3 linked regions of the Homo sapiens genome follow. The protein of the gene in region 1 interacts with the protein of each later gene in a pairwise test. Each region holds a gene or a part of one and is shown on either strand. Other genes may lie near its edges.

What was found.
Region 2: the proteins of LUC7L2 (region 1) and EXOC1 interact in a two-hybrid assay, tested with the Homo sapiens proteins (2 studies listed by BioGRID and IntAct).
Region 3: the proteins of LUC7L2 (region 1) and CEP126 interact in a two-hybrid assay, tested with the Homo sapiens proteins (2 studies listed by BioGRID and IntAct).

Annotation. Positions count from the first base shown.
Region 1 is NC_000007.14:139,410,909-139,419,118, forward strand, and holds part of LUC7L2 (putative RNA-binding protein Luc7-like 2), read left to right. Parts: intron 1-1,642; coding exon 1,643-1,672; intron 1,673-6,553; exon of another isoform or gene 6,554-6,629; coding exon 6,630-6,821; intron 6,822-8,210. Other genes in the region: FMC1-LUC7L2 readthrough protein, read left to right, coding at 1,643-1,672, 6,630-6,821. UniProt on the Homo sapiens protein: May bind to RNA via its Arg/Ser-rich domain.
Region 2 is NC_000004.12:55,898,274-55,906,422, reverse strand, and holds the end of EXOC1 (exocyst complex component 1), read right to left. Parts: intron 6,739-8,149; coding exon 6,539-6,738; intron 5,589-6,538; exon of another isoform or gene 5,269-5,588; intron 4,080-5,268; coding exon 3,885-4,079; intron 2,081-3,884; coding exon 1,928-2,080; 3' UTR 1,337-1,927; downstream 1-1,336.
Region 3 is NC_000011.10:101,909,342-101,918,441, forward strand, and holds the start of CEP126 (centrosomal protein of 126 kDa), read left to right. Parts: upstream 1-5,668; 5' UTR 5,669-5,943; coding exon 5,944-6,071; intron 6,072-6,677; exon of another isoform or gene 6,678-7,181; intron 7,182-9,100. UniProt on the Homo sapiens protein: Participates in cytokinesis. Necessary for microtubules and mitotic spindle organization. Involved in primary cilium formation.

The sequences.
Region 1 (8,210 bases):
GGTCCCTTTTTAGGAGAAGTGATGTCAGTCCTCTATTGAGAGAGAGAGATTTCTTCATTTACTGTAAAGTTTACCTCAGAGCTTTTATCTACTTGTTCTTTTGTGTATAGTAAGTCCTTATGGGAATATTGCCCAGTATTCTAATATATAAGTGGAATTTTCAGTAATATTGGGAATCTCATTTTAAGATTCAATTGAGGTGACAGTAACATGGAACAGAATTTCTTTGCAGGACTACATTTTCACATTTGTAGATGATGAAAAAGTATATCACATCTTACTCCTTTGTTTGCCAAATGGCAAGTTTCTTTTGACAGTGATTATATAATGCAAATTTCAGAAACATTAAAAAAAAGTCGTTGAATCTGTGAGCTTAAAGAAATATGGAAGTATGGAAGATGAGGAAATTAGAAACTAGTATAAAATTATATAAGATGGGATAAAAGAAAAAAATCATAATCATTTACTGGGTGCTTATTGTATGCCAGACACTGTAGTAAGGAATTTATCCATATTCATCTAATCTTTATAAACCCCACCCCCACTCCACCCCAGTAAAATTTATATTAGTATCCCTCTTTTGCTAGTGACAGAGTAAGCTGAGAGAGGATATGTAACTTACTTAGGTCACACAGACAGTGAATGGTAGAACCAGAAATAAAACTCAAATCTGGCTGATCTCAAAGTCATGCTTTCAACAATGCTATATATCATCCAAAAAAAAATAATAATCCCTGTGGTGTCCTACTAGCCATAATATTCACTTTACATTTCATTGAGCGTTACCTGTGTGCTAGGAAATGTGACAAGTGCCTTAAGTAGAGTATCTCATTTCATTTGAAGAAACACATTGTAAGATTGAACTAGGTGTTCTAGAGATTATAGTATGAGGTTGTAGCTCCAAGAGTATGTAGATCTCAGACCATAGAAATTTCACTCTTTTCCCAGAAGGGAAAAAAGAAATGACAGATATAAAAGAATTTTTTCCAAGCTGGTAAGTGGTTTCTGGAAAATTAGCAAGTTGTGATATGTAGGTTGAGCATCCCAAATCCAAAAAATGAAATCCAGTGAGCTTCAAAATCTGAAACTTCTTGAGTGCTGGCAGCATTTAAAGGAGATGCTTATTAGGGCATTTCAGATTTTGGTTTCTGGATTTAGGGATGCTGAACCAGTAAATTATAATGCAGACACTTCAAATTTTGAAAAAAATCGGCCACCTGTAATCCCAGCACTTCGGAAGGCCAAGGTGGTTGGATCATTTGCATCCAGGAGTTCAAGACCACCCTAGGCAACAAAAAATGTAAAAATTAAAAAAAAAAAAAACAAAAACAAAAAACAGAAAAAATCCGAAACACTTATGATCCTTAGCGTTTCGGAGAAGGAGTACTCAACCTGTACTGTGTTTTAATCTCCTAGGAACATATTCTTTAAGAGCCAGGTATTCTTGAGTTAAGCAAACCCTGCAAGGTGAAGAAATCTGTCGAGTTTGTGGTGTCTTTTGGAAAATTTTGTGTGCGTAGGTACACGCCTTGTATTTATAAAATTAATGTAAACATTAGAAATCAGGAAGAATATAATGTAACACTGCACTGTTTTCTTATTTATAGCCACTTTTCTAAAAATACATATTTTTTTTTTTTAGGTCCCGATCACACAGCAAGAATCCAAAAAGGTAGGTGTATTACATAAGACAGGTATAAGTAGTGAAGTTGTCTTTTTCAAAGGTAGTTTTTATAGATTGATTAAATGGTCCTTTAAAAATTTTCTTTTTTGGCTGGGCACGGTGATGCATGCTTGTAATCCCAGCTACTCAAGAGGCTGAGGCAGAATTGCTTGAAGCCGGGAGGCAGAGGTTGCAGTGAGCCAAGATAGCACCACTGCACTCCAGCCTGGGCAACAGAATAGGACTCTGTCTTTAAAAAAAAAAAAAAAAAAAAAAAGAAAATTTTTTTTGAAATCATTTAGATGCTCAGAGTAGATACGTAAAAGGATTAATTTTTTAAAAATCAATTTGGGTGGTACATTTAGGAAACATGTTCTAAGAGGTTGTAGCTGTTGAAAACATTAGTAGGTTAATAGTTGGATAAAATTTTGATTGATCCACTGTGGGTTAAGCAAAACCAAAATGTTTAGTATACCCTCCAGTCTTGACTTTATGTGAGTTTATTACCCATTCCTTTATACAGTGATCACAGAAGGCTTTCAGAGAGGCATTTGCAGCCTTAAAAGAGCAAGACAATACTTTGTTTTGACTTTCAGCGTTAATATTTGGGGTTTGAAACCTTTCTTTGTAGTTTTTGCTAGTTGCTGATACATTTTTTTGTCTGAGAAAGGCAGGGAAATGTGTTGTACTTCATCATTCTTTCTCAGTTCTTCACTTGCCCTTCTCATTCCAGTCGTTGAGCTTTCTTCATGGATCCATTCCCACCTAGAATGCCCTTTCTCAGTCTTTTCCAAATTCTACCATTCCTCTTGTTCAGATCACATCTTCTTTTAGAAACTTTCTGAGTTCTCAGCTCTAGAGACTATTTCCCAAGAAGTTTTCCCTAAAAAGTAGAGAATTTGTTGTTATGAAAGAAAAACCTGGCTGAGCGCAGTGCCTCACGCTTATACCATCACAGCTCTTTGGGAGGCCGAGGCAGCCAGATCACCTGAAGTCAGGAGTTCGAGACCAGCCTGGCCAACATGGCGAAACTCCATCTCTACTAAAAACACAAAAATTAGCCGGGTGTGGTGGCAGGTGCCTGTAATCCCAGCTACTTGAGAGGCTGAGGCAGGAGAATCACTTGAACCCAGGAGGTGGAGGTTACAGTAAGCCGAGATTGTGCCACTGCATTCCAGCTTGGGTGACAGAGTAAGACTGTCTCAAAAAAAGAAAAACAAAAACCTTACAGTTCTGTTAGCAACATCTATCAATGATATTTCTGCCTAAAACACTAAAAAAACTAAAGAACATTAATAAGTGGGGCCAGTTGTGTCAGCTAATTTATATTATTGGTGAATTTCTCTGATCTAGCATGATAAGTAGAAACATTAAACTGTGATACTGTTATTGTTTACTGTTTGATTAATATAAGCTGGTCCCTTTGTTGAAAACATAAAGTATTGCACATAGAACATCTTTAGATATTTGGGCCAGAAATTTAATTTCTATTCCTCTAGTCCTGTTACCTAGATAATATGTTTGCCTTGTAACTGGGCTCCTTAGTTCTCTGTGCTTGCCCACCCCCCTTCTTCACCTCATTCTATTTTTCACACGTCAGCCAGGATGAGCCTTTAAATAAATGAAATACATCACATCAGCCCTCTGATTCTCCAAAGGTTTTTCATCTCATTCATATGAGAAGTTAACATCTTTACCAAAGCTTTTACATAGGGTGACGGTGTGGCCTGGGGTGTCCAATCTTTTGGCTTACCTGGGCCACACATCAGATACACTAATGATAACTGATGAGCTGGAAAAAAAATTGCAAAGAAATCTCATAATATTTTAAGAAAGTTTACAAATTTGTGTTGGGCTGTATTCAAAGCCATCCTGGGCAGCATGCGGCTTGGAGGCCGCAGGTTGGACAAGCTTGGCATAGCCCAAACTGCCCTGGGATAGTTCTGGTTTATGTCTTTTATCCCAGAATATGTATTAATAGCTTCTCATTACATTCAGTAACTTATTCAGAGCCTTCTAGTTTGAATGATAAAGTACCTGGTCATCCTGCCTGTAAGACCCTGATATTACTTCCTTTTGCTCACTTCATTCCAGCCACACTGGTCTTTTCCTTCAACATGCTGAGCTTTTTCCCACCTCAGGGACTTTGCATCTGTGTTCCCTCAGCCTGAAGCACTCCTCTCTGAGATGACTGATTCACTTGTTCCCTTTCTTCTTTCAGCTTTGCTTCAGTGCCAACCTATCAGAAAAGCCTTCCCTGCTTATTCCGTATAAATATTTCCACTCTTTTCTCTTTTTCCACTCTACGTAATAACATCTTTTAATTTTTTTTTGAGACGGAGTCTTGCTCTGTTGCCCAGGCTGGAGTGCAGTGGCAAAATGCCAGCTCACTGCAACCTCCGCCTCCCAGGTTCAAGTGATTCTTCTACCTTAGGCTCCCTAGTAGCTAGGATTATAGGCACGTGCCACCATGCCCTGCTAAGTTTTTTTTTTTTTTTTTTTTTTTTTTTTTGTATTTTTAGTAGAGTAGGGGTTTCACCATGTTGGCCAGGCTGGTCTTGAACTCCTGACCTCAAGTGATCCGCCTGCCTCAGCCTTCCAAAGTGTTGGGATTACAGGCATGAGTCACCATGTCCAGCAATAGATCTTTTTTTTTTTTCTTAACCACCTGACATATCTTTATTTACTGCCTACAAACCTGTATAGATCCCTTTCTATAGTATAAGCACTAAGTTTAGTGCAGGAACTTTGTTTTACTTGCTACTCAACCTCCCCTAGTATAGAACAGTGCAAAAATACCTAGTGAATATTTTTTGGATGAAAAAATTACCTAGAATTTTTAAAAAGATGAATAAAGTTATACATTGGAAGAAATGGCATTCATAATAACTCAAAATGAGTGGTTAAACGAAGTATGATTTGATAAAACTTACACTGAGAGTTTTATATTTTTTCCCTCTGCTTCCTTTTGGAATTACTCTTTTCAGCTGTGGAAATAACGCTTTTTTTTTTTTTTTTTTTTTGAGACAGGGTCTCACTCTGTCCTGAGTAGCTGGGACCACAGGCGTGTGCCACCATGTCCAGCTAATTTTTAAAAATTTATTGTAGATACGGGGTCTCCCTATGTTGCTCAGGCTGGTCTTGAACTCCTCCCGTTTAAGGATTAAGCAGTCCTCCCATTGTGGCCTCCCCAAGTGCTGGGATTACAGACACAAGCTATTGTGCCCAGCCAGAAATACTCTTTTTAAGTGTGGCTAAAGCTACGTCCATGTCATGTACCTTTCTTTGACTATAATGTTGACATAAGCTGAATGCCTTTTAGCATCGTTCATAACAATCAGTTGAAGATAAACTGTATTTGTAAACTATCTCATATGTATAATATGATTTTGAACTTGCTGTATCAAATTATGAGCAAACCTCACATTCTTAAAGTGACTTAAATTTAAGAGTTTTATTGAGGTATAAAATATATATATATATATATATATATATATATATATATATATATATATATATGATTTACTCTGAAGTCAGTGATTTTTTAGCAGATTTAAAGCTGTGCAACTATCACCATAATCCAGTTGAGAACATTTCCATCATTCTTAAAGTGACTCTTCTAACAAAGTTGCATTCCTTTGTTTCCCCTTGTTTTCTGTCAAACGTTTATGTCCTCTCCATGCCATTTCCACCCTCACCATGCACCCCCACCCACCCCACAAGTTAGTTTGTGACCTGGTGGAGGCTATAAAAGTGTCTTACCTTGTGGGTTTTTTTCTTTTCAAAAAATGTCTTTATTTTGCCAGCACCTTGATCGTATATTTTCTGGTTTTTCAGAATGTTTTTCGTTCTCTATTTCTGTGTATTCATTAGAAATACATTTTTTTTGCAATCTGAGTCAAGTTCTCAAAAATGATTTTCGCAAGTGTTCTTTCTCCCAAACTGTTTGCTCCTTGAATAGAGAACTGTCTTACTGTGTTTGTTTTGTCTTGCTCTCTATTGCCCAGGCTGGAATGCAGTGGTGTGAACACAGCTCCCTGTAGCCTTGACTTCCTGGGCTTGGGTGATCATCCTTCCTTAGCCTCCCAAAGTGCTGGGATTAAAGGCGTGAGCTACTACCCCTGGCCCTTACTCTGTTTTGATTACACTGTGACTAGACATGCATATTGTGGGCATTAAAAACTTACTTCTATGGTTATCTCACCTTTCTAATTCAGACAAAGAGTAATTTGTCCTGACGTATTCTTCCTCATCTCTTCTCTTCCCTTCTGTCCAGGTCTGTCAGGTACATATTTAATTTCTAGAGGATACAAAAATGTTCAAGATATTTAAGTGCAATTAAATTCATAACAAATCTAGATAATATAGCCCCTGGCATATAGTAGTGGTTCAAAAGTTGCTTTCACTTGAAAAACTATTTCTGATAATAAATTTATACATTACTGATTGCTCTCTGAGAATTATCAATCAGTGTCTTGTTTTTGAGACAGAATTTCACTCTTTTGCCCAGGCTGGACTGCAGCGATGTGATCACCAGGTCATTGCAGCAGCCTTGACCTCCCTGGCTCAAGAGATTCTCTCACCTCAGCTTCCTGAGTAGCTGGGACTACAGGCATGTGCCTCTGTGTCCAGCTAATTTTTGTATGTTTTATAGAGACAGAGTTTCGCCATGTTGCCTAGGCTGGTCTTGAAATCCTGAGCTCAAGCGATCCTCCTGCCTCAGACTCCCAAAGTGTTGGGATTACAGGTGTGAGCCACGGCGCCTGGCTGAGAATTATTAATGTTTTATTTTGAATTCTAGTATGTAGTTATTAACACACCAGCAATTCAGTGTAGATTTAGCTGACTTGGAATATAATTGACATTAAGACTACTGAAAAAAAGTTTCTCTTTAAAGAAAAGGCTTTAATAAATGAGAAATATAGTAATTACAAAGGTAGAAACAAAATCAAATCTTGTCTGGTAGATCCAGGTCCAGAGAGCATCGCAGACATCGATCTCGCTCCATGTCACGTGAACGCAAGAGGAGAACTCGATCCAAATCTCGGGAGAAACGCCATCGCCACAGGTCCCGCTCCAGCAGCCGTAGCCGCAGCCGTAGCCACCAGAGAAGTCGGCACAGTTCTAGAGATAGGAGCAGAGAACGATCCAAGAGGAGGTATTGATGTGTCAATCAGAGGATATGGAGCTACCTTAATGTTTTAGAGTTGTTTATGTTTACTTATGTTACTTATGTTTAGAGTTCAGATTATTGGTTTGAAACTTTTGCATCTGGTAATATGTACACATTTATGTGTGGGTGTACAACATTTTTCTGTGATTATATGGGTAGTTTTGAAAGAATATACTTATGAGCCAGAGCAAGAAATTGGAACCAATATGTGTAGAGGTTATTGCTTTTCTCTGCTTAGTGTGTCTTGGAAAAAAGTTCTTTACAGGTAAATAATTTTAAATACCAATACCCTTAGTATGGATCAGCAAATTAGGGGCTCTGAGAAGTCCTTTCATTACAAGAGTTGTTTAGCTTTGATTTATTGTTTTCTAAACTTATTTGAGCTGGGATGCTTTTTCAGAGCAGACACATTCTAGTATATTCTTGTTTTATCTGCACTATAGATATGTATTGTTACATACCTTCAGCTTGGCAAGGCAGACTAATAAGGAGGTTCCAAGACTTCCCTTGGTTTAATGAGAACATTCAAAAGGTGCAGGCATAGGGTAAGGTATGTTTGAGGACTTGAATATCTATTAAGGATAGACAAAGGATTATAATGTGGTAGAAGAGTTTAGCATTCATAGTCTGTATAGATCAAACTGTCAAAACTTCTCAGGTCACATGATGGCCCTTAAACCAGGTAATTTCTGTGTAACGTAAGCCATGTTTAAAATTGCTTTTTTCTTGACAACTATTCAGAAGTATATGTATGATAAACATTTTTTGAGTGCCTAGTACCTACTAGTCTTACATATTCTGTGGATTACTCCACATAAAATCTATAATAAAATCCACAGAAAGCTGTTAAAATCTTTCCTATTTTTTTTTGACTCAACTTTCCATTCCCTGAAATCACTCACAAGCTGAGTTTGTTAATAGGCTCTCAATATTTTATTTCTTATATTCTGGCCTTGTTTTTAGTATTTCTTAAGGTGATTTTAATAATAATTAATTGTATATGTTTTACTGTACTAGACTTAGTAAAACATAAGAAAGACGTATAACATAGTTGAACAACTTTAAGTTGCTCTAAGAAGTTTCCTATGTGAGGCTGGGTGCCATGGCTCACGCTTATAATCCCAGCACTTTGGGAGACCGAGATGGGCGTATCACTTGAGATCAGGAGTTCAAGACCAGCCTGGCCAACCAACCCCATCTCTACTAAAATACAAACATTAGCCGGGCATGGTGGCACATGCCTGTAATCCCAGCTACTCAGGAGGCTGAGGAAGGAGAATTGCTTGAACACAAAGGTGGAGGTTGCAGTGAGCCAAGATCGCACCACTGCACTCCAGCCTGGGTGACAGAGCGAGACTCCAGCTCTCAAAACAA
Region 2 (8,149 bases), on another chromosome or scaffold:
TCCAGCTTCCAAGGGGAGTATTGGCTATTAGTCTTTTGATCTTTCATATAAATTTTAGAATCAGCTTGTCAAGTCCTACAGAAACAAAACCAAACAAAGACAGTTGTGATTTTGACTGGAACTGTGCTGAATCTTTAAACTTGAAAATAACTGCCAGCTGGTGCAGTGCCTCACACCTGTAATCCTAGTGCTTTGGGAGGCTGAGGCAGAAGCCTCACTTGAACCCAGGAGTTTGAGATCAGCCTGAGAAACATAGTGAGACCCCATTCCTACAAAAAATAAAATTAGCCAGATGTGGTGGTGCACATCTGTAGTCTCAGCTGCTTGGGAGGCTGAGGTGGGAGGATCACTTGAGCCCAGGAGATAGAGGCTGCCGTGAGCTATCATCACACCACTGCACTCCAGCCTGGGTAACAGAGCTGAGAGATCCTGTCTCTCTCAAAAAAAAACAAACAAAACAAAACAAAACAAAAAGGACTGCCATTTCTACTTTAGTATATGTGTTCTTATCTGGAAACATTAAATACTTCTTCACTTATTTTGGTTTTCTTTAATATCTTTCAGTAGTTCTAATTTCTCCATAAATGTCTTATACATCTTGTATTAGCTTGGGCTGCCAAACTATTTTCTCAGTTTTGGAGGCTGGAAGTCTGAGATCATGGTGCCAGCATGGTCAGGTTCTGGTGAGGGCTCTCTTCCTGGTTTGCAGACAGCTGCCTTCTCATTGTGCCCTCCCACAGCAGAGGGAGAGTGAGCTCTGCTGTCTCTTCCTCTTCTTACAAGGGCATTGAGTCTATTGGATCAGGGTTCCTACTCTTCTGACCTCATTTAAACTTAATCGTCTCCTTAAAGACCCTATCTCCAATACAGCCACATGGGGGGTTAGGGCATCAACATAAAATGTTAGTAGGGCCACAATTCAGGATATAGCACATCTTTTGTTAGAGTTAGTCCTAAATACTAAACATCTTCAATATTATTATTTTTCTTATTTTTTTTTCAAGTGACAATATCTTGCTATGTTGCCCAGGATGGAGTACAGTGGCACAATCACAACTCACTCAAACTCTTGGGCTGGGGCAATCCTCCTGCCTCAGCTTCTCAAGTGGCTTAGATTATAGGCATGTGCCACCACAAAAAATTGTTCTTCTATGGAGACAGGGTCTCACTGTGTCGCCCAGACTAGTCTCAAATTCCTGGCCTCAATCAGTCCTCCCTCCTTGGCCTCCTAGAGTGCTGGAATTACAGGCATGAACCACTGCACCCGGCTTACTTTACTTATTATTAAACTTTTAAGTGTTTTGTGGTATATAAACTTGCAATTAATTTTTGTATATGGATTTTGTAAGAACTTGCTTTAATACAGAAGACAGCATATGATAGACCTAAAAATATTATCAAATGTCAACTTTTTTGAAAATTTATTTCACATTTATTACTAGTCACATAATCCTCAAAAATCTAAGTTCACAAATGATCATCACATGAGCCCTCTTCTCCATATACACATTTGTTAGTGTGAAAAAACAATTTTGTACAGTATTTTAGTAGTTACATGATTAGCAAGCAACAGAGAAGTAGTGAAAGCTGAAGAACTCCAAATGCATTGCTCATAGGACAACCACTCAAACACAAGCAGCTAGGCAATAAAGGAAAATTTCCCATCCAGTCATTGAGAAATGCTAAAGGCATTTTATGGTGACATGAATGCTTAAGTTAGTATGCAACCTATAGGGCAAATAAAACTGCTATATAGGTTGGTAATTTTGCATTTAAATATTTGTAGTATGGTACTACCCATTTATCTAACATTTAATAATACATAAAATTTTAAGTCTGGGTTCTCAAAACAGTTGCTTGGTATTTTGGTATAGTGTCTGTTATACTCAAATGCTTCATTCAGTTATCTTTTCTTCTTTCACAAGGTTTAGTGGGACTGTGCAATGCTGGAACAATAATCCAGAATGTCCTGAATAGTGAATTCCATTGTAACACCAGATCCAGGATAACAGCGAGCTATCAAACCTTCAAAGTGCTTATACTGGCGTATAAATTCATCTTGCATGGAGTGCCACACCACCTATTATTAAAAAAAAAAGTCATTAGGCTATGAATGGAAATAATATGTAATCTAGTATGCAGAAATAATGCCAAGGCATATTCTAAGAATTTGGGTAGTATAGTAGCTAGGAACATGCATTCTGAAACCAGAATCCCAGTCACTTTTACCTACAAGATTTGTAACCTTCAGTACATGACATCACTGCTCTATGCCTCAAGTTCCTCATCTATAAACCAAGATAATAATAAGACCTTCCTCATAATGCTGTGAGAATTAAATAAGAAATGTACATAAAGTGCTTCAAACTGCGTTTGACACAAGTAAGCACTCATGACATTTTAGCTATTATCTTATATACTCCAATATGCAACACAGATGTGGATATGCACAATTATGTATAGAACTAAGACTAGTGATTACATAAAATGTAATGCTTTAATTTCATTTCCTATAACATTTAAAGTTTTCTTTATCTAAAATTGTTGATGCAAAACCTTGCTTGATGCCTTGGAGGACAGCAAAATGACTCAGACCCATTATCTGCAATCATGTGATTTATAATCTAACAGTGGAGGCTAATATGTAGACAATTACCAAGACACAATGTGATACACACATTGACATAATGGCTTAAATAGATTACATTAATTGAAGCTTACTCTTTATCAGCACAGTACAAAGCACTTTATGAATATATTATAGTATTAAGTCTCATGATGACCTGGTGAGGGTGGGTATTATGATCATCTTCCCTATTTGACAGCTGAGGGAATGTATTCTTCCAAGATTTTTTCTTGTAAATCCTAAATCTCATAAATCCTAAATTCCTGCCAACTTAAGACCAATCGCTATTCCCTAAGCAGTGTTATGCTTTTTACTTTTCATCGTTTAGCTCATATTATTTCTTTCTAGAATGCTACTCCCTCCATCCCCACTTTGCCTGTTCAAGTACATCTGACTTTCAGAGGTTAAAACAAACAATGCAATATCCCTCAGGAAGTCTTCCATGATGTTGAAATCAGAATTACTCTCACTCATATCTGGGCCTTTCAATATGGTTTATAAAGAATAATGGCCTAATTTGGACTTTAAATCTGGCTCCACTACCCATTAGTTAAGAGAGCTTGGTCCTATTACTCCACCTCTCTAAGCTGATTTTCTTTCTTTCTCTTTCTTTCTTTTTCTTTCTTTCTTTCTTTTTTTTTTTTTTTTTAATTGAGACACGGCCTCACTCTGTTGCGTAGGCTGGAGTGCAGTGGTAGGATCATAGTTCACTGGAGCCTCAATCTCCTGGGCTCAAGTGATCCTCCTGCCTCAGCTTCCCGAGTAGCTGGGACTACAGGCACGTGCCACCATGCCCAGCTAATTTTTTTAATTTTTAGTAGAGACAAGGTCTTGCTATGTTGCCCAATACAGTGGCTACTGTACAAGAGATGTATCGTTTCCACTTATCAAATAAGGAAACTAAGGCTCAGAGAGGTTAAGTAACTTCCCAAAGTCACACAGCTTAATCTGGAGCCAGATTATGAACCCATCTCTAATTCCAACCACTCAACCAACCAACCAACCAACCAACCAACCAACCAAAGAAAAACAAACTTAATGCCTCACCATAATATAGCAGAAATACGAAATAAGCAGAAATAGCCATATATGCTTATATAAACAGTATTCCTTTCTTCCTCACAATTCATTAATCTGGTCTGTACTCTAATGGAACTCTCCTCCTGCTCTAGATCTGTAGCATTTCTAGAAAATTATTTAAAGAAAAGCAATATATGTAAGGATCTTTAAGTCAGATGGTCAAAAGAAGTAAGCATACCTGAAGTAAGTTCTCTTCTTCACATAAATGTTTATCAACTTTCTTGTAGAGGTTATCTAGACCTTTTTTTACTTCCTTTCCAGGGTACTCCTTAATGACTTTACGAAGTTCTTGTTTGTTAAATGCAAGTTGGTAACTTACTTCCTCCTCCCTTATGCCCTGTGCCACGCGAGCTTCAACACCTTCAAAGAAATGCTTCAAGGAAATGAAAAGAAACAATGGCTAAGACCTGCATTTATTATTATTTACATTAAAAAAATCTGATTACAAAGTAGTGTATAATCACCATGCAAAAATCAGTGTGTGAAAGTATAAACAATAAAATAACAATCACTTATTAACATACTTCTGAGATGAACATTGTTAATATTGTAGAGTTCCTTGTAATCTTTTGATGTGTGAATACATACAGGAGATTAAAATTTCATGTCCCACTTTACATTTAATATTGTTTTTTCCTAAATATAAATTTTAATGGCTGCATAATATTTCACACAATGACTGAACCACAATTATTATTCATTCCTCTAGTACTAGATATTTAACATCCCACTCCCCCTTCTTTTTTTGGACTTGGCAAATCTAGTGAGACTTTAGAAAATCTACTATAAATATATTTGTCATAAATTTTTTTTGTATATAAGTATTTACCCATCTTACTGATTAAATTTCCAGGACTATAATTACTCTGTTGAAGAGCATAACTTTAAGTATTTGAAAGATTCTTCAGTATATATACAAACTGCTTCCTAGGAAAGCTCAACCAATTTATATTTCTGTCAACAGTGTATGAGGTTGCTACTTCACTATACCATCATAAGCATTATGACAATTTATAACAATAGTTGCCAGAGTAAAAAAAGTTTGTCATTTTATTTTATAATTCTTTGGCTATAAATAAGGTTAACCTGCTTTTATATGTTTAGTAGTGATTCAGCCCCTTGCCCCATTTATAAATTGGGGTCTTAGTGCTTTTCTTATTGATTTTAGTAAGATTTTTTATATTAAATATACTGACTCTGTTATATTATTGTAACTATTATTCCCAGGTCTTCTTTTATATATATACTTTTATTGACTGGCATAACTGTATTTGAGCACGATACAAAGAATTAATGCTGACAAACCCCATTCCCTCTCATTACTTTTTTCTAAAATTTTCTTAGTGATTATTCATTAAATTATCATTCTTTGAGAAGTTATTCTTAGTGCTTTAAAAATTTTGTTTTTACATAAGCTCTTAATTGGTAGACAGGAAATACATTGTTTTTCAGTATATTTGCTTTAAATTTTGTCACTTGACCAACACCAGTAATTTCAACATATCATATACAGGTGGTGATAATCTCGTCTCTGTTTTCCATATCTCTTATTTATGTTTCAGGTCTTGTTGAACTGGCTAGTGCTTCAACAACAATGCTAAATAATAAAGGATCTAACAATATTTCTGCTTTAAATTGATTTCAGAGGGAATGTCTCTAACGTTGCAGTTAAGTATCATGTAAGCTTTAGGCCTGAGATAGATCTTTTATCCAGTTAAAGGAATATTTGTCTGTTCTTAAGTTTTATAAGGAATTAGTTCTGCATTTGATTAAATGTCTTTCAAGTATTTCTTTGAATTGTTGACAGCAGATACATATTCTTTTTTTTTGTTTTGTTTTGAGACTGAGTCTTGCTCTGTCGCCCAGGCTGGAGCGCAGTGGTGTGATCTCCACTCATTGCAACCACCACCTCCTAGGATCAAGTGATTCTCCTGCCTCAGCCTCCCAAGTAGCTAGGACTACAGGAGCGTGCCACCACGCCCAGTTAATTTTTTTTTACATTTTTAGTAAAGACGGGGTTTCACCTTGTTAGCTAGGATGGTCTCGATCTTCTGACCTCGTGATCCGCCTGCCTTGGCCTCCCAAAGTGCTGGGATTACAGGTGTGAGTCACCGCGCTATTTTACTCTAACTTCAAGTTAAGAGCTTATAAAAGATAACTATATTGCAGACAAAGTTAGTTTAAAAGGTTCATTTAAGCTTTCACTATCTTGTAAAGTTCCCTAAAATCATCATTTCTTAACTTTAATTAACAGACTTACTCTGGGAAATGACTCAAGTAAGGAAAAAAAAAGAAGGGAAAGAAAAGTAAAAGGCAATGTAGAAAGCAATTTTTGGTTTTTCTTTTATCTTAATAATATTTTTGAAATTTCCACCTAGACATTGTAAACTTGGTCATTTATAAAGTAAGAAATGGGAAAGAGTAACGGCAAAGCCTAATCTAGGTTCATCCCCCAGCTTTGTAATTTATAAGCTATTATGATGTCGGGCAAGTTTTTTTACTTTCAGTTTCTTCATTTGTGAAATGGGGATAATATTATCTTAGCTTACACATCATTGTTTATAAGAATTAAAAGAAATAATGCATAATAGAATACTAGTACAATTATCATTAAAATATAGTAGATAAATAATGTATAAAAATAATGTACAGAAAGAAGAAATAAAATATATAGCATCTAGCAGTGTCTGGCACACTGGCAGCTTCAATAACTGAGTCCCCTGTGCACCAACACATGAGAAAATTTAAGATAAATGTCTGCAGGTTATTCATATGCAAACTTATGTGTATAGGTTCAAAAGTAGGAAAAATACTGAATGAAAATATATTTACATTTAGTTTTTCAAGAGGTTGTCCTAAAGAGTAAATGACATAAGACTGAAGGTGATCTGTGTATTTTTGTTTGGCTTCTTTTTTTTCTGCTTCTAGACATGAGATTTTCAATCGAGAAAGAGTTGCAAAAATATGGTGAAAGTTTTCCATCATAACCACATCCCTGGGGGTCTTCTGGCTTTCATTTGCTACTTTCTCCACTAAAACCAAAACAGAAAAAATAAAATAACATCTCTGAGTATGACCATATTTAGCTATAAACATTTATACTATTAATTTTTTTTCATTTGTAAGTTTAAGAATTAAGCACATTTCTGGACTTAATACAATATATTGTAATGGGAGTCTTCAGATCTACCTAATCATAATAAAAAGTCATCCTAAAACAGTCCCATGTGTATATGGAAATTCAGTATATAATAAAAGTAGCTTTTCAGATCAATGGAGAAATGATGAATTATTCAAAATGTGTTAGGACAACCGGCTGGACCATTTTAATATATGAAATTTAAGTTCCTACTTTACATCTTGCAGTCAAATTCTAAATTGCTAAATTATTTAAAATGTAAAAAGCAAACAAATAATACAATCATAAGTACTAAAGAAAATATAACTAATAGAAAAATAATAATTTTGCAATAGTGTGACCTTGCTAAGAATGGCCCAAAATTTAGAAGACTGTTAAGGGGAAAGATAAATAAATTGGAGATAAAATTTGAAAATTCATGTAAAGTAAAGACACCATATACAAAATCAATGAAATGCAAAATAAAATAGTGAGATAATTTATAGCCTATCAGGTTGACAAAGAATAAAAAGATTGGTAATACCTAGTAAAACCCAGCATTGGTACAGCTGTAATGCAACTGCTCATAGCACTAAACTGACATAAGCTTTCTGTATCACAATTTGGGAAAAGACTTGAGATACATAAATCCTTTGACCCAGTAATTCCATTTCTAGTAATTTACCCTAAAGAAATTATTTGACAAGTATACAAAGATAGATAAACTAAAAAAATCCTAAATGTTTATTAATAGAAGATTTGGTAAATGGATAATGACATATGGATGACTATGCAATCATTAAAAATGATTATGTTTATCTATATTAACTAACTAAGAAAGATACTAAGATTATATAGAGTCCAGCAGCTTCAAAAATAGTGTGTCAGGTATGACAACACTTTTATATTAAAGAAAGCACACATACAATATGCCCATATATAGAAGAGAGGGACAGGGAATTTAAAAGTTTGGAAGAATAAAAATTTAACATTATCTCTGTACAACAAGATTAAAAATGATCTTTACTTTCTTCTTGATTTGAAAATTCTATTCGCTGATTTTTGGGGATAAATAGTTATTTATGTTTCAGGTCTTGTACTGGCTAGCACTTCAATAACAATGCTAAATAATAAAGGATCTAACAATACTTCTGCTTTAAATTCATTTCAGAGGGAATATCTCTACTGTTGCAGTTAAGTATCATGTAACCTTTAGGCCTGAGATAGATTTTTTATCCAATTAAAGGAATATCTGTCTGTTCTTAAGTTTTATAAGTTTTAGTTTATAAAGATTTATAAAGAACGAATAATGAATTCATTCATTC
Region 3 (9,100 bases), on another chromosome or scaffold:
TTAGTTTCAACACTCCCTTACCCTGGAATCTTGGACAAAGTTACTAATATTGCTATAGCTTGATTACCTCCTTTGTATTATGGAAATTGTTGTATGGATTAAAAGATATGTAACATTGCGGACAATATTGATGACTTTTATAATTTATATTAATAGGCAAATACACATATTGTAATCTTAAATTTCTAGTTGAAGTCTTACAAAATTCAAGTGAAAATGGCAGAACTTCAGCAGAAGTTGGCAGAACTTTAAATCAGCCAGATGTTAAAATTCTTTGTTCTTTCACATCTTGCCCAGAGACCAATTCAGGAAATTCTTATTTGAGCAAGAAAATACTTCAGTGGAAGATGGAAAAAAAAAAATAGCCTCAGCCAAGACAAAAGTGAAAGCACAAAAAAATTGTCCATCACAGCTGCCACATGGTTATAATACTTGTTAAATTAAATAAGCAGGAGGCCATTGCCTGAGGCTGTCTCTGTACTTTGAGTTCCTCTGTAGCAAACTGCAGCCTGACTTAGGAGTATATTTTTTGTAACAAATAGTGGAGTTTCAGCCAATCATAGGCAGCCAACTAATCAGAGTATACCCAAATAAGATAAACACCTAGCTGTAGGCAATCACATGATTCCTCTACTTTGTTTCTGTGTCCAACAAAATCTTGCTGCTCATGCTGCTGGGTGGAGCTCTCTGAACTTCTTGTTCTGGGTGCTGCCCAATTCGTAAATCATTCTTTGCTCAAATAAATTCTGTTTATTTTCTGTTCTAAAGATACTAAAAATAATATTCAGGCTGGGCGCGGTGGCTCACGCCTGTAATCCCAGCACTTTGGGAGGCTGAGGCGGGCGGATTACCTGAGGTTGGGAGTTTGAGGCCAGCCTGACCAACAAGGAGAAACCCTGTCTCTACTAAAAATACAAAATTAGCTGGGCGTGGTGGCGCATGCCTGTAATCCCAGCTACTCAGGAGCCTGAGGCAGGAGGATTGCTTGAACCCGGGAGGTAGAGGTTGTGGTGAGCCGAGATCATGCCATTGCACTCCAGCCTGAACAACAAGAGCAAAACTCCGTCTCAAAAAAAAAAAAAAATATATATATATATATATATATTCAAATTAGATAAGTTATGTGAATATGCTTTATAACCATAAAGTGGTTATTATTAGTTTCCTTTGTAAATAAAACATCAACGATTTATGAGACCACATTAATGAAATTGCATGTCTAATAGACATCTCACATTTAACATGTTTGAAGCCTAACTCGTATTCCTTATTCCACCCCTACCTATTCTTTCCCATCTTAGTAATGGCAACACACTTTATCCAATTGTTTGAGCCAAAAATCTGAGTCACATTTGACTTTTTTTCTCTCGCTTACTGCAACCATCCACCAACACATCTTATTGGCTCAAGGTTCAAACTGTAAACATTTCTTGCCACCTCCACTGCTACCATCCTAGTCCAAGTCTGCCATCTCTGGTAACCTTAAAACTGTCCTTATTGTTTCTGGTCTTATCTCCTACAACCTAGTTTTCCCCACAACAACTAGAGGGTCTCTTTAAAGGTTCAATAAAATTGTGTTACTCTTCTAATCAAAACTCTCAAATGGATTTCCCTCCATTGAAAGTTGGATTTTACATTAAGTCCTTGCATACAATACAAGTCGCCACTAAATCTGGGCCATGTACCTCTACAATCTCATATGTTAGCACACTTCCCTTATTATATGGTTTGGACCTGCATCCCTACCCAAATCTTTTTTTTTTTTTTTTTTTTTTTTTTTTTTTTTTTTTTTTTTTTTTTGAGACAGAGCCTTGCTCTGTCACCCAGGCTGGAATGCAATTGCACAATCTCGGCTCACTGCAACCTCTGCCTCCCAGTTTCAATCGATTCTCCTTCCTCCGCCTCCCAAGTAGCAGGGATTACAGGCGCTTGCCACCACGCCCAGTTAATTTTTGTGTTTTTAGTAGAGATGGGGTTTCACCATGTTGGCCAGGCTGGTCTCAAACTCCTGACTTCAGGTGATCCACCTGTCTTGGCCTCCCAAAGTGCTGGGATTACAGGCGTGAGCCACCATGCCAGGCCTCCCCGCCCAAATCTTACGTCAAACTGTAATCCCCAATGTTGGAGGTAGGGCCTGATGGAAGGTGATTGGATCATGGGGGCAGATATCCCCACTGATGCTGTTCTCACAATAGTAAGTGAGTTCTCATGAGATCCGGTCATTTTAAAAGTGTGTGGCACCTCCCCTCTCTCTTTCAGTCCTGCTCCTGCCATGTAAGATGCCTGCTCCCACTTTTCCTTCTACCATGAGTAAAAAGCTCCCTAAAGCCTCCCCAGAAGCAGATGCTGCCATGCTTTCTGTACAGCCTGCAGAACCATGAGCCAATAAAACCTCTTTTCTTTATAAATTACCGACTCTCAGGTGTTTCTTTATAGCAGTGCGAGAACTGCCTAATACACCCTACCTCACTCTATTCCAGCAACAGTGGTCTTGTGCTGTTCTTTGAGCACAACAGTATGATTCTGTCCTCACAGTCTTCTGTACTCACAGACCCCTGTGCCCTTATTCTTCATCCAGATATTTGAATGGCAACCTCTTTCCTTCATTCAGACCTCTGTCCTAATTTCCCTTCCTTTGGGGCCTTTCCTGAGCACCCTCTCACAGATAGAACTGACATTGGTCTCTATCCCCCTTCACTATCCCACTTTCCATGTAGCACTTTTCACTACCCTAATATGTTCTAGTGGGGAAGAAAAATAAATATAAGCTTCACGAACATAAGGACTTTGAAGTTTTATTCACTGTATCCCTAGCACCTGGAAAGTGCTTGGCACATAGTAGGTGCTCAATATATATTTCCTTAGCAAAAGAAGGAATTGTTTTATGGTTTTAAAGTGTGAAAGAATATAACATTGTATTTAATTCAGATGCCCCTTCTGATAAAAAATAGGGATTTTAGGGTAACATTCTTCTTTACTGCTTGAATCACAACTGCCTTTCCTGTCAAGAGATGAAGTTGATAAAATCCTCAAATTTTTTATTATCCAAATATCTAATCCTAAAGCCTTTTTCCATAAATAACACTGACAAAAAAGTCATGACAAAATCAAGCATCATGATGTTCAGAGCCCCTTGGGCCCTGCCTTTCTATAAGAATCTAGGATTCTACAACTTAAATAGAATGTGGAAAACCCACTTAATATTTTGAAGAAATAAAGAAAGAATTTAAAGGTCGAAAAAACCTATGATTAAAAAAACTGGCAACATTGTTTGAAATTTCTTTTCTTCTTGGTTGTTACCGTAAAACAATATTTGAATGAAGAATAATTATATAAGTCTAAACTGAAATAAAATCCTAAGCCCCCACTGACTGAATAGACCCCCTCTTGGCCAAGGGGACCCTGGGAAAACCTTAAAACTGAGTTCCCAGCCATAATGGGATGGAAGGTCAGCTATGCCTCATTATATCCTCTTCCTGTTGTAGTTTGGACACAATTGACCAGGATTAACGTTAAAGTAGAGATCATTAGACTGACGGAACAGACACTTGGTGGCAGTAAGATATCAAATTACAAATAGGACCTAAGGCCATGCCAGGCAAGGGTTAAGTCATGCACTCCTACACTTAAAGAATAAACTATGTTTAACTTCCACAAGTTTTCTGTTTTTCTCTAGCAGCTAAACAAACACTGGCCTTGAGATAAGCAATAGTAAAACAATCGTAGCTCACCACCAGACACTGACTAACTGACCCTCTGTTCCATAAGCCATAACTACAGCTTTGATTGGACAACAGACTGATTTCAATAACTTTCTCCTGATGAGAACATCACCAACCATGAGGTGGTTCTGGCCAGTTTAAGAGGACTGCTCACTTGAGTGCCTTTGTGTCCTAAAAAAAATTTAGACATAATAGGGCCTAATTGTAATGCAATTAAATGTTAAGTCTCCAGCCCAAAATGAACATGGGTCATATGTTACTGTTTGTTCAATATACATGCATCAGAACTACCTTCATAAATATTCATAGCTCCTCCTATATCCTATAAATTATGTATGTTTAGCCAACTTTTCAGCATAAATCTCCTACCTCAACATCCCTCCTTCAAAGTACCTGCCTCTTTAGGCTTCAGTTGGAGGCACACTCCCAGCTTGTGGGATGGCCCTCCTTTCAGGCTGTAACCCTTTCCTCTCCTTTCTAGATTCATAAATTACGTGTTTTTTTAAGTTAACGTAAGAAAGGATTTATAGGCAATTGAGAAACCAAATTATGCTTCTTAGTGCTAATATACCAAGCCACAAAGCAGTGAGATGCCTAGGACTTACGAGATCGCAAACTAATAATATAGCAAAAGCTGGACTTCTGGAAAGCTAACCATGCCTAAATATTCCAAATAGCAACTCTAATATTCTCATATTCATCTGTACTTTGCACTGCCCTACTTTACTCAGATCACCCATGGGGAGACAAACGTGTGATGACAGCAGTGGGAATAGAATCAAGGCCATTGCCTGTGGCTAGGCCAATTAAAAACTTGCCAAGATAGCCAAGTGTCCAGTTGTATACATTTAGCTTTTCATGTCAGAATTGTATATTTTATCCTGTTGGTATGCTTCTGAAGGAGAGTTCATGTGTTTTGTGTCTTAAATCGAAACTGGATTTGTTGTGGCACTTTAAAATCTGTCGCCAGTGTACATTCCAATTTGAGTCATTGCAACCAAGTTTGCAAAGATTGTTTTAAACAGTTTCAACTGGAAAAGTTTATTATTTGAAATCTTAAAATGAACAAATTAATTCACAAAGGCAGAGACATTTGAATGGTGGGTGAATAATCTTTATTTGGTCTGTACTTTCTGCTTCCAATCTGGGAATTTTTCCAAGAAAACACTGACTGAAATACAGTCAGAATTTATATATGCATTTACATTAGGCTCCAACAATAAGATTCAGCCTTTTTCAAAACTGTCACTTGCATAGCCAATAAACTAGTGTCTCAAAAATCCATTTAATTTTCCATACTTCCCAAAACCATTTCAATGCGATGATCTCTTTTGGCATATCTTCCCAAGAGATTGCTAGTTTTGCTGTGATGGTCCATTTCCAGAATCTGGCAGCAATGCGAGAACCATTAGGAGGCTTTGAAATGTAGACCTTCTAAGTAGGGCAAAGGCAAGGAAGACGACTGCAGAGGGAATGCCAGAAGCATTACCGAGTGGATGAGAGAATGCAGGGAAGGAAAATTTCCACTTCACAAAGACATTTTAAAGAGACGGTGTTTGGGGATGATGATGCCACAGAAAGACTCACAACTCAAAATCTCACAACAGGATTCAGTAGTTTAACAAATTCAACTCCAAATTGTCCCCCAGACAATCACTGCAGACTCCTCCCGGTGGCAATTGCCTGTATCTGAGGATTTTACATCTGTCTTTCGTCACTGTCGGTACTGCCACAAAAACACTCTCATAAAAAGGGAGGCAGAACTGCATCAGGCTCTAAAACAACACTCAGCTCACCCCTCGCGCAACAACCCGGGTCCCTAGGGATGCTTGGGTTGCCACCCGCCGCTCGAAGCTGGAGGGGCCGCCGGAGCCTGCGATTGGCTGCTTCGGGCACATCGTCCCGCCCCGACCTGTAGCTCCTCCCAGGTTTCCGTTGTCAAGGACGCGCCGTCGGTTGTTGTCAAGATGGCGGCTGCAGGGTTGCTGCCGCCCCATCTGCTATTGCCCGGCGAGGTCGCCGCTGCCTCAGCTGCCATCGCCGCTACAGGCACCAGTGCCGCTGCGCGGGAGCTAGGGCTGTCGAGGCCAACCCTTCCGCGCCCGTGACGCGGGGCCTGAGAGACGGAGTGTAGGGAGGGGCCGAGCAGGAGGAGGAGGAAGCCGGAGCTGCCATGAGGGAGGTTCTGGGGGCGAGCAGACAGGCGGCGCTGAAGTGAAGGATGCTGGCGGGGAGGCCCGGAACCCGGAGCGCGGTCGGGGAACTGGGCACTGAATCATCGGACAACCTCGACAGAGCCCCCCTCGGCCCTCGGGAGAGCGGCGGGCATCACCGACCTGGCTCTTACCTGTATCCTTCCCAGCCTGTGGCTGCCAGGGTAGCGATGTTGAAAACGGGGCCCATCTTTTTCCAATTAGATTCCCATTACCTTTGACGCAGGGTGATCAAAACTAGCAAGTCATCTTAGTGCAGATATTTCCTTTAGCAACTGTCGTGTCTCACCTTAGACCTGAAATTATACCATTTTATCTAATTCTGTGGCTGCTTCCCCCCATCACCCTGTTATCCTACTCCCATTCTTCAACTTTGTAAAATTTTTGTGAATTTTAAAACACATCAACTGTGTATTCTGTGGGGATATTTTTATGCCATTATGTTCTTTACTTACATATTAACTACTTCCTGATTTATCGTACTACTTGGAGAGAGAAATTACACAAATAAGTAAAATGTTTTGCTATCCTAAAGAGTCCGTTTTAACAGTTATCCTAACACAGCCCTAAATGCATTTACCAGAGCTGCTAAAGGCTACACAGTTTGGTAAGTTGTTTTGTTTTCCATCTCTGCCCAGTCTGTTGTCAGAGCGACAGAAAAGAGGAAATGAGAAACAGGGGACCTGGACGCTTTACAATCTGGATTAACTCTGACTTTTCTCGAAGAGTTGGTTAAGCCTACCTTTGATGTTGCTGTTGGTTGCATTGTAGAAAATGGAAAGAGGAGAAGTATTTTGTTATCAAAATCTGTAAATCAGGTTTATTCCTTTAGAGACTGTTGTGATGATTAGGATTTAACCTTTGTATTCCCAAAGGACTTGGTTGGCAATGATGGTGTTGTGTAATCATCTTCAGTCTTGTCAGAGATGAGTGTCTTCTCTTTCCAAGTTAACTCTGTTTTCTTATCCCCTTTGTCTCCAATTTCTAGGATGTTCTTTGTACTCTGTTACAATTTTAGCAGCAAGTCAACAATTTGTATTGAGTGCCTGCTCTTTGGCTGACTCTGTTCTAGGTTCTAGGGATACAAATCTAGTGAGGAAGACAAATGTGTATAGAGCTTCACTAAAAGTAAAATATCTCTTCTCCGATCATGCTTTCTGCAATCTTCCATCCCTTCAGTCTTTTCTTTCTTTGGGCAGGTTCTCAAAATGGTAGCTTGCAATAGCTGCTTCTAGTTCCTCTCATCTATTCATTATTAACCCCATTCAGTTTGGCTTTTGCCCTTGCTGCTCCCCAAAATTGCCCTCTTAAAGGTTACTCTGAAATGAACACAATCATTTTCTGTATGGATTTAATTCTGGCCTCTTGACATTATATTTTCTTGGACACAACTGCTATTACACGACCCTGATTTATCTCTAAATCAGAAAATAGGGAAGTATTGTAAATGGCTCATTGAGAGTGTATTTTCTGTTATTTTCATTAATAAAATGGTTGTAGGCCTCATTTTTTAAATTTTATGTGGTATAAATTTTTGATACAAATGCCAAAGAAAATATTCATAAATAGAATCCAGCAATACTTTGAATGAACACAACCAAATAGACTCTATTCCAGAATTAGAATGACATTTCCTATAAAGAAATACAACACTAAAAAAGATCCTTAAAGGCTAAATATATAGTTAAAATTAGGCAAGTTATAAATGAACATTTTAATAGATGACCAATAGACTTTGATAAAATCCAACAATGTGTGTGTGTGTGTGTGTGTGTGTGTGTGTGTGTGTGTGTGTGTGTGCTGGTTTATATATATTTTTGCTAGTTTGCATATGTGTGTATATATATGTTTAGATAATATATATTTAAATTGGAACAGAGGAATTATTTTTGAACATAATAAAGATTATAACACTAAATCAAGAACATTATGTTTGCTAGCTGGAAAAACACTAAAGTACCTTTTATATAAGTTTAATTGGAATGTTCTTTGTGTCTATAATGTTTCCCATTGGATACCTAGCACAGAGTAGGTGCTCAAATTTACATGACTAAATGAAAAAAAGGAAAGAAAGCAAATGAAAGGACCACAGCCTTAAAATAAGCAAGTATGTGGTAACATTTACATTTCAATTTCAAATATGAACATGATACTCAGAGGCCATCTGGCTTTCTGTTGAAGACATTTTCTCACTGGAGTCAGAATTTTCTGACTCTAAAGGTTATAAAACAACAAAACCTTATGAAGTTTATTTAATTAAAATTAGCTAAAGTTCTGTCATTTCAATCTCTTTTTCTCTTTTGAGAGTTCAAATAGAAATGGAATTTAAAAAAAAAAAAAAAAGGAAGGTCTCTCATGTCCCCTTATACCTGCCTTTTTTTCCTCATAAATATCTCTACCCTTCAACCCTCCCATTTTATCCTAGCACCCACCTTGCCTCTCCTTTCCTCTCCAGTTTATACCCTATTCTTAACTATTTGAACTTTCTCTCACCAACATCTTTGGCTATTTGTACCCCAATCATTCTGCCTCAGCCACTCAATAACTACTATAGTCCTGCTCCTTTACTCCTTCATGCGAATAATAAAAATGCTGTCAAAGAAAAATCACAAAACAATACAGATTGTACCACTAAAGATTGATGGTTTCCAGCTTCACCTAAACAGGAACAGGGTTCTTTCTTTTTCCTATGAATGCCTCTGCCAGGTCTCTGTCACCTTCCATCACACTCGATAGACTGTCTTACCACTTGATAAGACTTGGATGCCCTGACAGGTCTGTTCCAACAAACAGCACAAACACACACACTCCCACCCACCTGTCTTTTTTTCCCCCCAGGCTCACTGATGGGATCTTACTTTTACTATAGAAAGTGAAGTGAACCCATTCAGCTGGGCCCAGTGGCTCACATCTGTAATCCTAGCACTTTGGGAGGCCGAGGTAGGCAGATTGCTTGAGTCCAGGAGTTCGAAACCAGCCTGGGCAACGTGGTGAAACCATATCTCTACAAAAAATACAAAAATTAGCTGTGTGTTGTGGTGCATGCTTGTAGTACCATCTACTTAAGAGGCTGAGGCAGGAAGATTGCTTGAGACTGCGAGGTGGAGGTTGCAGTGAGCCGAGATTATGCCACTGCACTCCAGCCTAGGCAACAGAGTGAGACCC